Linked DNA regions of Homo sapiens: region 2 is linked to region 1. The links come from fine-mapping of genetic effects on plasma protein levels. Region 1 holds a variant in brackets. A gene starts in the other region. All regions are shown on their forward strands.

Region 1 (5,373 bases):
GGTCCTGATGATGCCATGTGAGATGTCTGCTACCCCATTACCTTCCGCCATGATTGGAAGTTTCCTGAGCCCCTCGCCAGAAGCAAATGCTGGAGCCATGCTTGTATAGCCTGCAGAACTGTAAGCCAATTAAACCTCTTTTCTTTATAAATTACCCAATCTCATATATTTATAGTAACGCAAACAGCCTAACACAGCAAGCATATATTTATGTCAATTGTATACTTTAAATATGTATAGCTTATTTTATGCCAGTTGTACCTTAATGAAGCTGTTTAAATTATTGCAGGACTTTTTAAAAGAGTCATCAGTAAGCCTCTGACGCATTAAAAAAAAACACATTATGATAAAATTTTGTGGTGGAACATGGAGTAGAAATTTGACTTCAAATAGAAAAAGAAATGATGCAAAATGTCTGACTCTTAGAAAAGAGCTTGTTCATGTATTTTTTAAATGGATGATTGTAGGTATCGAATTGCTAGGGCATTTAATTTAACTGGATACATTTAAAAGAGTGATGTAATTGTTTTACTTTTACGTGTATAAATTTACAATATGCCAGAAATTACAACCTTTGCAACTATTTAAACTTTTGATGAAAAATGTTAAGCTATCAACTAAAAATTATGTCAAGGAGTACCTAGTCTTAAAATAATCATTTACAGAGTACACTAGCAAAAAAACAAAAACAAAAACTGAAAACAGCTCGTTTAGAGAGTTAATGGAAGTTCTTCTATAAAACTATCTTAACCTCCTGGAATTAAGGAAATAATTTCCCCTTCCCCAAGTTCTGAGAATCTCTAAAGGGATGCAACATGTTTGAATATAATTATTTGTGGATGTATGGGTCTTTAACCTGGGCTCCATGACTGGGGGCAGAGGACACATGCATGGTCAGTACTCCTCTAGGTTATGTGTCTCTGCATACATTATTTTGGGGCAAGAAACTTCAGATTCTTTCTTTATATCCACAAAAAGAGGATGTTTGGGGGATCCTCCTTTTGGGTGATCCTGACCCCCAAAGAGTTAAAAATAATTTGTCCAAAACCTGAGATTCTTTGAGAAGTTTTATTGGGTTCTTCTTTGGCCTCCAAAAAACAAAATGCAGTAGTCAAAGGTTTGTAATACTGAATAGGAGTTCCTAATTTCCTGCATGGGGCTGAGGTACAAAAACCCAAACAACCAAACAAAACCCACAGTGTTTACAGCCAGAAGTTCTTCATTAAAATCCTGTTTCCAGGACTTGCCAACTGGAGGAAAGTTTGTGAGTCCCTTTGCTCCTCCCTACAATGGAGATAATTCCCTCTTGAACTAATTAGGAGAATGGAATAAGGTGAAGTGGTGAACACATAACATATACTCACCTATGTTGGGTCCAGCACTCTTTCTGTATATTCTAACCTGAGATTGAGTGAGTCTGAGAGATGGCATTGGTCAAACACTTTACATCCTCCCCCTAGCTTCCTTTCAAGCAAAAGGAAATGATCTAGGACATCAACAGGCAGCCCCCTCCCATGGAGCTAAAAAATGAGCTCAGACCCAGCCTATAGCAGAGGTGGTGTCCCTCCCCCTTTTCTCAGACTTCCTAGGCCGGAGTTAACCAAGGCTAGGTGCACACCTGGTACATCCAGAGACACCTTAAATGCTACCTTCTCCTGGAATCCTCCATCCTCTTCTTTTAATTCTCATTTCTTCCTGCCTTGAGGTTTCTAGGACTCTATCTGTCCCACTCTTTGGGCAGGCATCCCTTTCTCACTCATGTTAGTTTTAGGTGAAGAGCACAGTCTTCAAAGTTAAAGAGACCTAGATTGCAATCTTGGTGGTATGGAGCAAGACACTTTTTCTCTCTGTGCCTCAGTTTTCTCATGTGTCCCCCCATGTAATTTGAGGGTCATTATAGTTCTTAACATCATAAAAATGTTAAGACTACAGTGCTTAGCACAATACGGAGCATCAAAGTGTTATCTATTTTTATAATCAAGGGGGCCTCCCCATAAGAGTCTTGACTTACTCCCCTCCCCAGCAGCTCCTCACACATGGTTAATAACAGGTAACACATTACTATTTTCAGAACAGAAAAAGGATTGGGCCATAGGGCTCTCGCCCAGGATGGTGCCAACCCTTTCTGGTCTTCCTCAGTTTATGTAAATCTCTCTCCAGCTACAGATAATGACAGCTTAGAGTTTCCAGGGGCTGTGGAATGTCCAGCCACTGCCTTGCATAACCACAGAAACTAAGAACACTAGGCCCAGAAGGGTCCTCTCAAATCATTCAGTCCAACAGTACCCGCATTATAAGATAGGCAAACCGAGGCCCACAC[G/A]GTGAATCAGCATCCACCACAGGCATTTTGAAGAATTCTAAAAATAACACCTCCAATTACTCTTTCCACTTGCTTTGCTTTATTTTTTTGTCGTAACATTTCCCTTACCTGCCATCACGCACTTATTCTTTTACTTGTTTATTTTCTGTTTTCTCTGCCACATGTAAGTTTCATGAGGGCAAGAACATTGTTGTGTTCACAACTGCATCCCTTGCACCTTGTCCAAGGTCTGGCAGAGGTTTACATTCAGTAAATACTTGTCGCATGGATAACTGGATGAATGCCATTTGGACATTTTCCCTTAGAGGCTCAGATGTAGCAATTCACTCACTTGGTCATTTATCCAAAAAACATCTGATGAATATCTTGTATGTGAGAAGCTTTTTGATAAATCCTGGTGAACAAGACCTGTCCGTGTTCTTAAGCAGCTCCCTGATTAGCGGACAATAGCTGCCAGCTATACAGTAGACTGAGGATCTACTATATGCCAAGCTGTGGGCTGGCAACTTTATATGCATCTTCTCTGTCTTAGCTCAGTTCTTGCAATTGCGAGGAAACATGCCTCACTCAGGACTCCTTAAGAAAAGGCTTAGGAGTTATTAGGAGGACCGGGAGGGCTAAAGGTTAAAACTGAAAGGGAAACATCAAGGACTGAGATGATGCCACAGACTGGCTGACTCATCTCTTGCTCTTTAAGCCTGCTTATTCTTTCTTTAAGAGTGTCTCTTCTTTTTCCTGGATGTGTGCCTCTCTCTCTTTTACTGACTTACTGGTTCTCTCTTCTAGTCTAAATTTTGGGAGGGGACCACAAGACTCATTGGCTTGGCCAATGGCCTTCCTTATTCCTTAAGTAAGCGCCTGCAGCCCAGACCACTTTTTGGATTACTATTTGGCCTAGAGGTTGAACATTTAGCTTCTCACATACCCTGAGCAGAGTGTATGTTTAATCAGAAGGGAGTGTTGAGCATCATCTTCACTTGGATGCTGTGAAGTAAGTAGTTTTATCTCTATTTTACAGATGAGAAAACAGGCGGAGCAAGGAGAAATGACAACAAAACCGTAACTGTAACAAAGCTGCCCTAACCCACCTGCAAATCTACAATTGAGAAATCCATTTCTGTTGCCCCTGAGATTTGTGGGGTGTTTGTTAAGTAGCAAAAGCTGACTGATACAAGATTCAAACTCAAGTTTCTTTGATTCTGTCTGCATCACCATGCTGTCTCACTGAACTTACAGCCCTGATTCCTGTTCCTGATTCCCAAGTGTCCTGTCCTAAAAGGAGCAGAGATAAATATTGTATTCATCCATTTTCTGATGTTATAACAGAATCCCACACTGTTGGTGTTCTGAGTATACTGACATTCCTTGACGCTAGATTTTATATTGTTGATTGACTTGTTTATCATCTCTCTCCTCTATGAGATTAGAGTATTTTCTCTTTATTCACTTTATTCATTTATATCCATACCACCTGGATCAGTTTCTGGCACATAATAAATGCTCAATGAATATTTATCAAGTAGATGATTGAATGAATAAATAATGATAAAAAGGAAGTGTAAAAAAACAACTTTTCATCTTAAAACAAGGCCCTGAGTCCTTTAAGGTCAGAATAAAGAATAATTTCTAGGTAGGGACAGAAAGTTTAGTACATGATGGATGGGGTCAAGAATCAAGGTAAGAAAACTTGAAGGTGTGAGGCTGGGCACAGTGTCTCATGCCTGTAACCCCAGCCCTCTGGGAGGCCATGGCATGAGGATCACGTGAGCCCAGAAGTTTGAGACCAGCCTGGGCAACATAGTGAGATTCCTTTTCTACATAAAATAAAATAAAAATAGCCAGGCCTGATGGTATGCACCTGTAGTCCCAGCTACTCAGGAGGTTGAGGTGGGAAGATTGCTTCAGCCCCGGAGTGTGAGCCTGCAGTGAGATATGATAGCGCCACTGCACTCCAGCCTGGGTGACAGAGCAAGGACCTGTCTCTAAAATAACAACAAAGGCCGGGCACAGTGGCTTACACCTGTAATCCCAACACTTTAGGAGGCTGAGGTGGGCAGATCACCTGAGGTCAGGAGTTCGAAACCAGCCTGACCAACATGGTGAAACCCCGTCTCTACTAAAAATACAAAATTAGCCGGGCATGGTGGCACATGCCTGTAAATCCTAGCTAGTCAGGAGGCTGAGGTAGGAGAATCACTTGAACCCAGGAGGCGGAGGTTGCAGTGAGCCAAGATCACACCGTTACACTCTAGACTGAGCAACAAGAGTGAAACTCCGTCTTAAAAATAAAATAAAATAAAACAACAGTACAACAATGAAAATAATACAAATAAAAATTAAAATATAGTTTCACAACTATTTACATTGTATTAGATGTTTAGAGATGACTTAAAGAATGTGGGAAGATTGCATAGACTATATGCAAATACTATACCATTTTATATAAAGGATTTGAGCTTCTCTGGGTTTTCATATCTGCCAGGAGTCCTGGAACCAACCACCCATGGATGCTGAGGGATGGCTGTACTCAGAGGTCCTTCCACCCACTGTCATGCCTGGCATCATCCACCCTGCATAGATAGAGGGTTTGCAGAAAACCCCTGATCATTAGACACAGAACACAGAAAACCAGTTTCCTGACTCCCTCTGGTGTGAAGGAAAGAACAGGGAGGTTGGGGTGGAAAGTTAGAGTGGAAAGACAGACACCCCAGATGTTTCTTAACTTTTGATTATTCCAGCTGACAAGACATGCCACACCTCAATGTGTACTGAGTGTGAGTCACTTCCTTCTCTAAGCCTCAATTTCCTTACCTGTAACATGTGGACAATGTTTATACCTACATCCCTGGGGCTGTTGCAACAATAAGATGAGGTCAGGTAGATGAAAGCTGTATGTCACTGTAATGTCCAGTGCCTTTTTTTTTTTTTGAGACAGAGTCTCACTCTGTCACCCAGGCTGGAGTGCAGTGGTACAATCTCAGCTCACTGCAACCTCTGCCTCGCAGGTTCAAGCAATTCTCCTGCCTCAGCCTCCCAAGTAGCTGGGATTACAG
Region 2 (5,373 bases), not on the chromosome of region 1:
AAACACTGCATTAGACAAACTTGGTGTTAACCCTGGATCTGAAAGACTTTGGACTCACTGCGTGATCAATATCCCTGGGGTTTTTTGGGGCACAAAATGTCCCCTATGCATCTCTGCATTCCTTGTGCCAACCTGTCATGGTGCCTGGCAATTGAGGGTGAGTGCTCGGCAAATGTTAGCTCCCTTCTTTTTCCTCCCTCTCCTCTCCCTCTAAATTCCTTCTCAATCCTCCCAGGTCCTAGTTTTCAGCTGACCCCTGCCACACTCACCCAGTCCTTGCCAGCGGTGATCTTCTGGCCCACTCCCACCTGAATCACCAGGAAACCACAATCTCAGCTGGAAAATCGTAAGGAGGATCCAGATGTAAATTTCACTGAAGCAAGTGACACTGGCCTCCCCCACCTCTGGGATGGGAAGAGTTGCAAGCACTTTTTGAAAATGTACATATAGAATCAACCCTGTAAAGGGGCTAAGAGTTCCTCTATACCAGGGGGTACAAATGACATATATGATTGAAGCTGGATGTGGAGGGGGTAAACTGGAGGGTAAATGCCCCATCTAAAGGGAGCATATGCCGTTCAGCTCTGACTGATTGTTGAAAGATCTTCTGATTTTCTAAAAGAGGAGTGGAAAATCCAGGATCTTACATGAAATCTGATTTGAAATGCTGGACAGGTCTCGGACTAGGAACCCTGCAGCACCAAGCCTCAGAGGGCCACAGGTCCCTGCCTCAGTGGCTCCACATTCCTGCATCTAGTCCCTGACCCCATATGCGCACACACAGGCATGCACTCTTGCAGACATGGACAGCATGGGCTAGGGCTGAGAGAGGAGATATGAGCTGATGACTCCCTTTTAAGCAGGCTGCTTCATTTCTTTTAGAGTCCTCTGTCTGATTTCCTTTGAGCCATGGGCTATATGGCACTGGCAGTTTATGTTTTTGAGGCTCACTCTACACAGATAGAATGGGGACTGCTGGCAGTGCCTCAGGTTATTGGTGGGGGTAAGAAAGGGCATTTCTCTCTGCCACTGTGGGGGTGAGGGATTCACACTTGTTAGATGCCTCCCTCCACCTGCCATGTGCCAGGTCTTCGTTTACTCCTCACAATGGAAGGAGGAAGGTAGAATTATTTCCATTTTACAGGGGAAGAGACCTGGCCCTGAATGGTTAAGTGTCCCAGGGGTTACAGACCCAGTTAGGGACCTGCCCTCAGGTTTGCTACCCAGGACTGGGTGTGGGGAGGGCGGGGCAACCCGCTGGGAGCTGCTGAGTGTGGGGCACAACCCAGCTTGGGGAGTGGACCTGCAAAGTGGGGACGGGGCTGGTGGCAGAGGCAGAGCTGAGAAGGGAGACCAAAGCGAGAGGCCACAAGGGCCTCGGAGGGGAGTATACAGGTCGGGGAGGGGGACACAGCTGGAGGTGGAGCTGAGGGCAGAAACTCAGCCCCGGGAGGGGGCTGGAATCACTTTCACCTTCTTGCCTGCAATACCGTCAGAATAAAGTGGTACTCCATCAGGGGCCCGATACAGACCCAAAAATGTAAACTATCTAGATAATTTCGCATTAGCCCTCCCCGGGCCGGGCTACAGGCTGGAGAGTTTTGGCCGCCCAGCAGGCTGGCAGGCGGGGGCAGAAGAATTGCGGGCGGGGGGCGGGACAAAGTATGTGCCTGTCCGACCTGTCGGGATTAGCCTGTCTGTCGGAGCCAAGCCAGGTGCTGGGGCCGTGCCCCCCCTCCAAAAGCAAGGGCAGCGGAGGATGGCTTCTTCACCCCTCCATCACCCCCGCAAGCGCGCACATTCTTCTTCCCTCCCCCACCATCCCGCAGAGGCCCCAACAGGTGCCGAGGGAGACGCGGACCTGAGGTTCCCCTGGCTGGCCCTCAAGAGCCAAGAGAGCTGTCCACGTCTGAGAGGCCAGTTTCACAAGAAAACTCCTGCCCCCAAGCACACTCACTCCAAGTCTGTCCCGGCCCTCCAGGGAGTCCCGGGCGAACATAGCCCCCACCTCTCCCCAACTAAGCGATACCATCGGTTCCTGAGCGCCAGACCCCGAGGGCCAGGGAGCCGCGCCACTTCGCTGCGCACCGGGGGCCGCAGCGCATGCCGCCTGCCACGTCGAACCCAGGCCCAGGCTGCGGACTGGGGTGGGGGTCACCAGAGACCGTGGGACTTGGGGGAATCCGAGCCAATGAGCCCCAGGATCAAGAACTTCTGGATTGGAGGCGGGGTATAAACAGGGCTGGTGGACTTGGGGAATTCAGGACTGCGAGTGAGGATGATCACCCGGGGCTGCGGGATGGAGGGGAGTTCGAGGGGAAGAGGCTGCCTGCTGGATTGAGGGCCGACGGGGGCGGCAGACTTGCAGGAAGGGTGCAGGAGGTGCCCTGTCCTGATCGCCGACCGGAGAGCGATCAGACTCCCCTTCCTTTCTGTCTCCCCCCACGCACCCAGCTAGAACCAGCCCCGACGGGAGGGCCCGCCGCGCCCCAGCTCCCGGGGAAGGGGGCGCTGGGGAGAAGGATGGGGCAGCTACGAGGGGACTCACCTTCGTGCTGCCAGTCGCGACGGGGGCAGGCCCGGGAGGGGCGAGGGCGCGGCCCGCTCACCCGCCCGCTGCGGGACTGTCCTGGGCGCCCGGCTCGCCTGCGCTCCGCCCGCCCGTTCCCAAGTTGCTCAATCTGCGGACGGCTCACGCCCTCGGGGCCAGCGCCCCACCCGGCGCATCGGTCCTCCGGGGCGGCTCGGAGCTGCCCTCGTTCTCCGCAGCACCCGAGCGGATGCCCTACTCTGGCCGGTCGCTCCGGGCTCTCTGCCCTGCGCTGGTGCTCTCCGTCGCGCCTCCGCTCGGCCGGAGCTCCCAGCCCGGAGAGGGGCCAGTCCTCTGCGAGCACCAGGGAGGGAATCCCCCCCTTCGCAGTCCCCCCCGCGAGCCGGCCCCCCTTCCAGGGATCCGCAAGAAAAAATGGACTGGAGCGCCGGCCCGGGAGTCCACACGTCCTTGCCCGAAGCTGGCGCTCTGCGCTCCGAGCGCGGGGCTGGCGGAGGGACAAGTCCCCAGGACCCTGGGGCAGACCTTCTGCTTTTGTCCCCTGCCCCTCCCCGCGCCCCGGGGATTCCACGCAGCCAGAGAACCCGCAACAACTCCGCTCATCTTGGCGTCAGAACGCGGCCGGAGACCCTCATGAAAACCCCAGTTTCCCCATCAGGAACCTGGAAAGTGACAAGGAACAGGCTCCACAGAGCCTGGTGGTCTTGACCACACCCTCTCCCCCTTCAGGGTCAAATCTTCTGTGCATCTTCCCAGTTCAGAAGAAATACCAAGGCTATCAGATCCTGGGCACCGAGGTGAGGACACCTCCAGAGGCAGCTGGTAGGTGAGAGTGAGGGAGATCATACAATAACACTTAGATTCATGTCTGGCTCTATCACTTACCAGCTGTGTGGTCATGCCTAGGTTACTGAACCTCTCTGAATCGCAAGGCTTCATCTGTTCTGAGGGTTCAATGAAATGAAGGCTACAAACTTCTGGTTAATGGTGGGAACCCCATACATGTTTGTGGAATGAGTCTTGAACGGCTACAGACACCTGCAGTGACCCAGATGATGTTGAAGTCAAGCCCGAAGAAGGGAGGGAAGGAGACTCACTTCTTAGAGTGACAAACAGCTGTTCTCCAGCTTCACTTCAGATTGGGAAAGGAAAATGGGCTAAAACTGTAGTTAGTGGGAGTTAAGCTAGAGCAGAAAAGATGTACTGATTGTGTGTGTGTATAGGGGGGGTGAGTAATCAAGACAGGCTGTGGAATCTCCCTCTTAGGAGAGAAGGGGGGAGCCCTGACTATTGAGTTAAGGGCACAGGGTCGTTTACAATGACAGGAGGATGGATGTAATGACCCCTAGAGTGTCCCAATGGCCAGGGAACAGGGATGGTGGATAGCCAGAGAAAGTGGAGCAGTTGGGTCCGAAATGCCCAGTGTCTGGGTTCATTCAGCCAGAGCATTGCCAAGTTTGCAGGAGGCAAACAGTCATTTCCGAGTTGGTCCAGGGGCCCCCTCCAACCTCCAACCCCCACTCAAGTCCCTCCTCTCTCACCTCTGCCCTGAGCCTTCCCTGCGTCTAACCGGCCCTTGGCTATGCTCTGTGTCTAATCAAACAGCCCCAAATGCCGAAAACTCAATGTTTATTTTATTTTATTTTTTTACACACTTGCATAACTCTCTGACAAGCCACGCCAGGCATTGGGCTTTTTGTTTGGTTTTATTTTGTTGCATTTAGGAAAAAAAAGAGGGAGAGAGAGAGAAAAGAGAAGAAATAACACAAACCACACAGCCCTAGAAGCTGTCCTAGGCCAGGCAGTGGGCTCGGGTTTCCTGCCTGAGGAAAAGTCTGTGGAAGTTGGGGGGCCTCGTTACTAGGCTCAGGAATGAGTGAGAAAGGGAAGAAAGCCACCTGGGTGACAGAAGATAACGAATTAGAACCATGTGACAATAATGGGTGAATAAGAAAGAATGTTTCTTGTGCACCTAATGTATGCCAAGCACTGTGTTTTGCACATATATTCTGTTACCTAATTTCGCAACTATTGTAGTTCCTTTCTTTTTTCCTTTTTTCCCATAAATGTAAATTCTGATCCTCAGAGACGCCAAGTCAATTGCTCAGAGACACACAGCCTGCAAGTGGCCAGCCCAGTTCAGGTTATGCCAAATGAGTTGTTTCCCTGGGAAAGCTGTGTTGCTCTAAATTTGCATATGCTGTTCATTCTGCTTAGAAATGTCTTTTTCTCGGCCAGGCGCAGTGGCTCACGCCTGTAATCCCAGCACTTTGGGAGGCTGAGGCAGTCGGATCACGAGGTCAGGAGATCGAGACCATCCTGGCTAACACGGTGAAACCCCGTCTCTACTAAAATTGCAAAAAATTAGCTGGGTGTGGTGGCGGGTGCCTGTAGTCCCAGCTATCGGGGAGGCTGAGGCAGGAGAATGGCATGAACCCGGGAGGCAGAGCTTGCAGCGAGCCGAGATCACGCCACTGCACTCTAGCCTGGGCAACAGAGCAAGACTCCGTCTCAAAAAAAGAAATGTCTTTTTCTCTAATCCTTTTTGTGTCATCCTTCAAAAGGCCTGTATGAAGTTTAGCCTGACCACCTCGAAAGTCAGCCTCCAAACCTTGTGTAGACCTGTACACCACCCATCATTGGCCAATGATGGTCTCTTCCACTGCAGTGAGTTCCTAAGGAACTGGGAGGATGTTCACAGACAAAAGCAGAACTCTGTCCGCACGGAAGAAGGGCTTTTGGATTGGAAACTACTGGCATCTGTGATCATTACTGTTACTCTAGAAAAAGCTGACTTTGTTACTGTCAATTTATAGGCTCCC

Direction of the effects. Positions count from the first base shown, and alleles are read on the strand shown. Strength reflects both the effect of a copy and how common the allele is.
In carriers of allele A in region 1, the plasma level of the protein whose gene starts at base 2,875 in region 2 tends to be lower than with G alone (weak association).

Evidence for each region. PIP is the posterior inclusion probability: the model's chance that the variant is causal. The UK Biobank Pharma Proteomics Project read protein levels with antibody pairs (Olink). The fine-mapping took linkage between variants from a reference panel, not from the people measured, so its PIPs are less certain.
Region 2: it holds the start of RSPO1, and the variant in region 1 is fine-mapped to the plasma level of the RSPO1 protein (UK Biobank, PIP above 0.99).

The regions. Positions count from the first base shown.
Region 1 is chr20:45,352,432-45,357,804 of GRCh38, forward strand. No RefSeq gene overlaps it. Among named protein-coding and RNA genes, the nearest start is that of SDC4, 6.7 kb to the left of the region's middle. The variant G/A (reference allele first, on the strand shown) is at 2,321.
Region 2 is chr1:37,632,018-37,637,390 of GRCh38, forward strand. RSPO1 (R-spondin 1) reads right to left here and starts at 2,875. Exons shown (of 7, transcript NM_001242908.2): 1 at 2,549-2,875; 2 at 270-336. RefSeq lists enhancers at 1,166-1,693, 2,222-2,749, 2,750-3,276.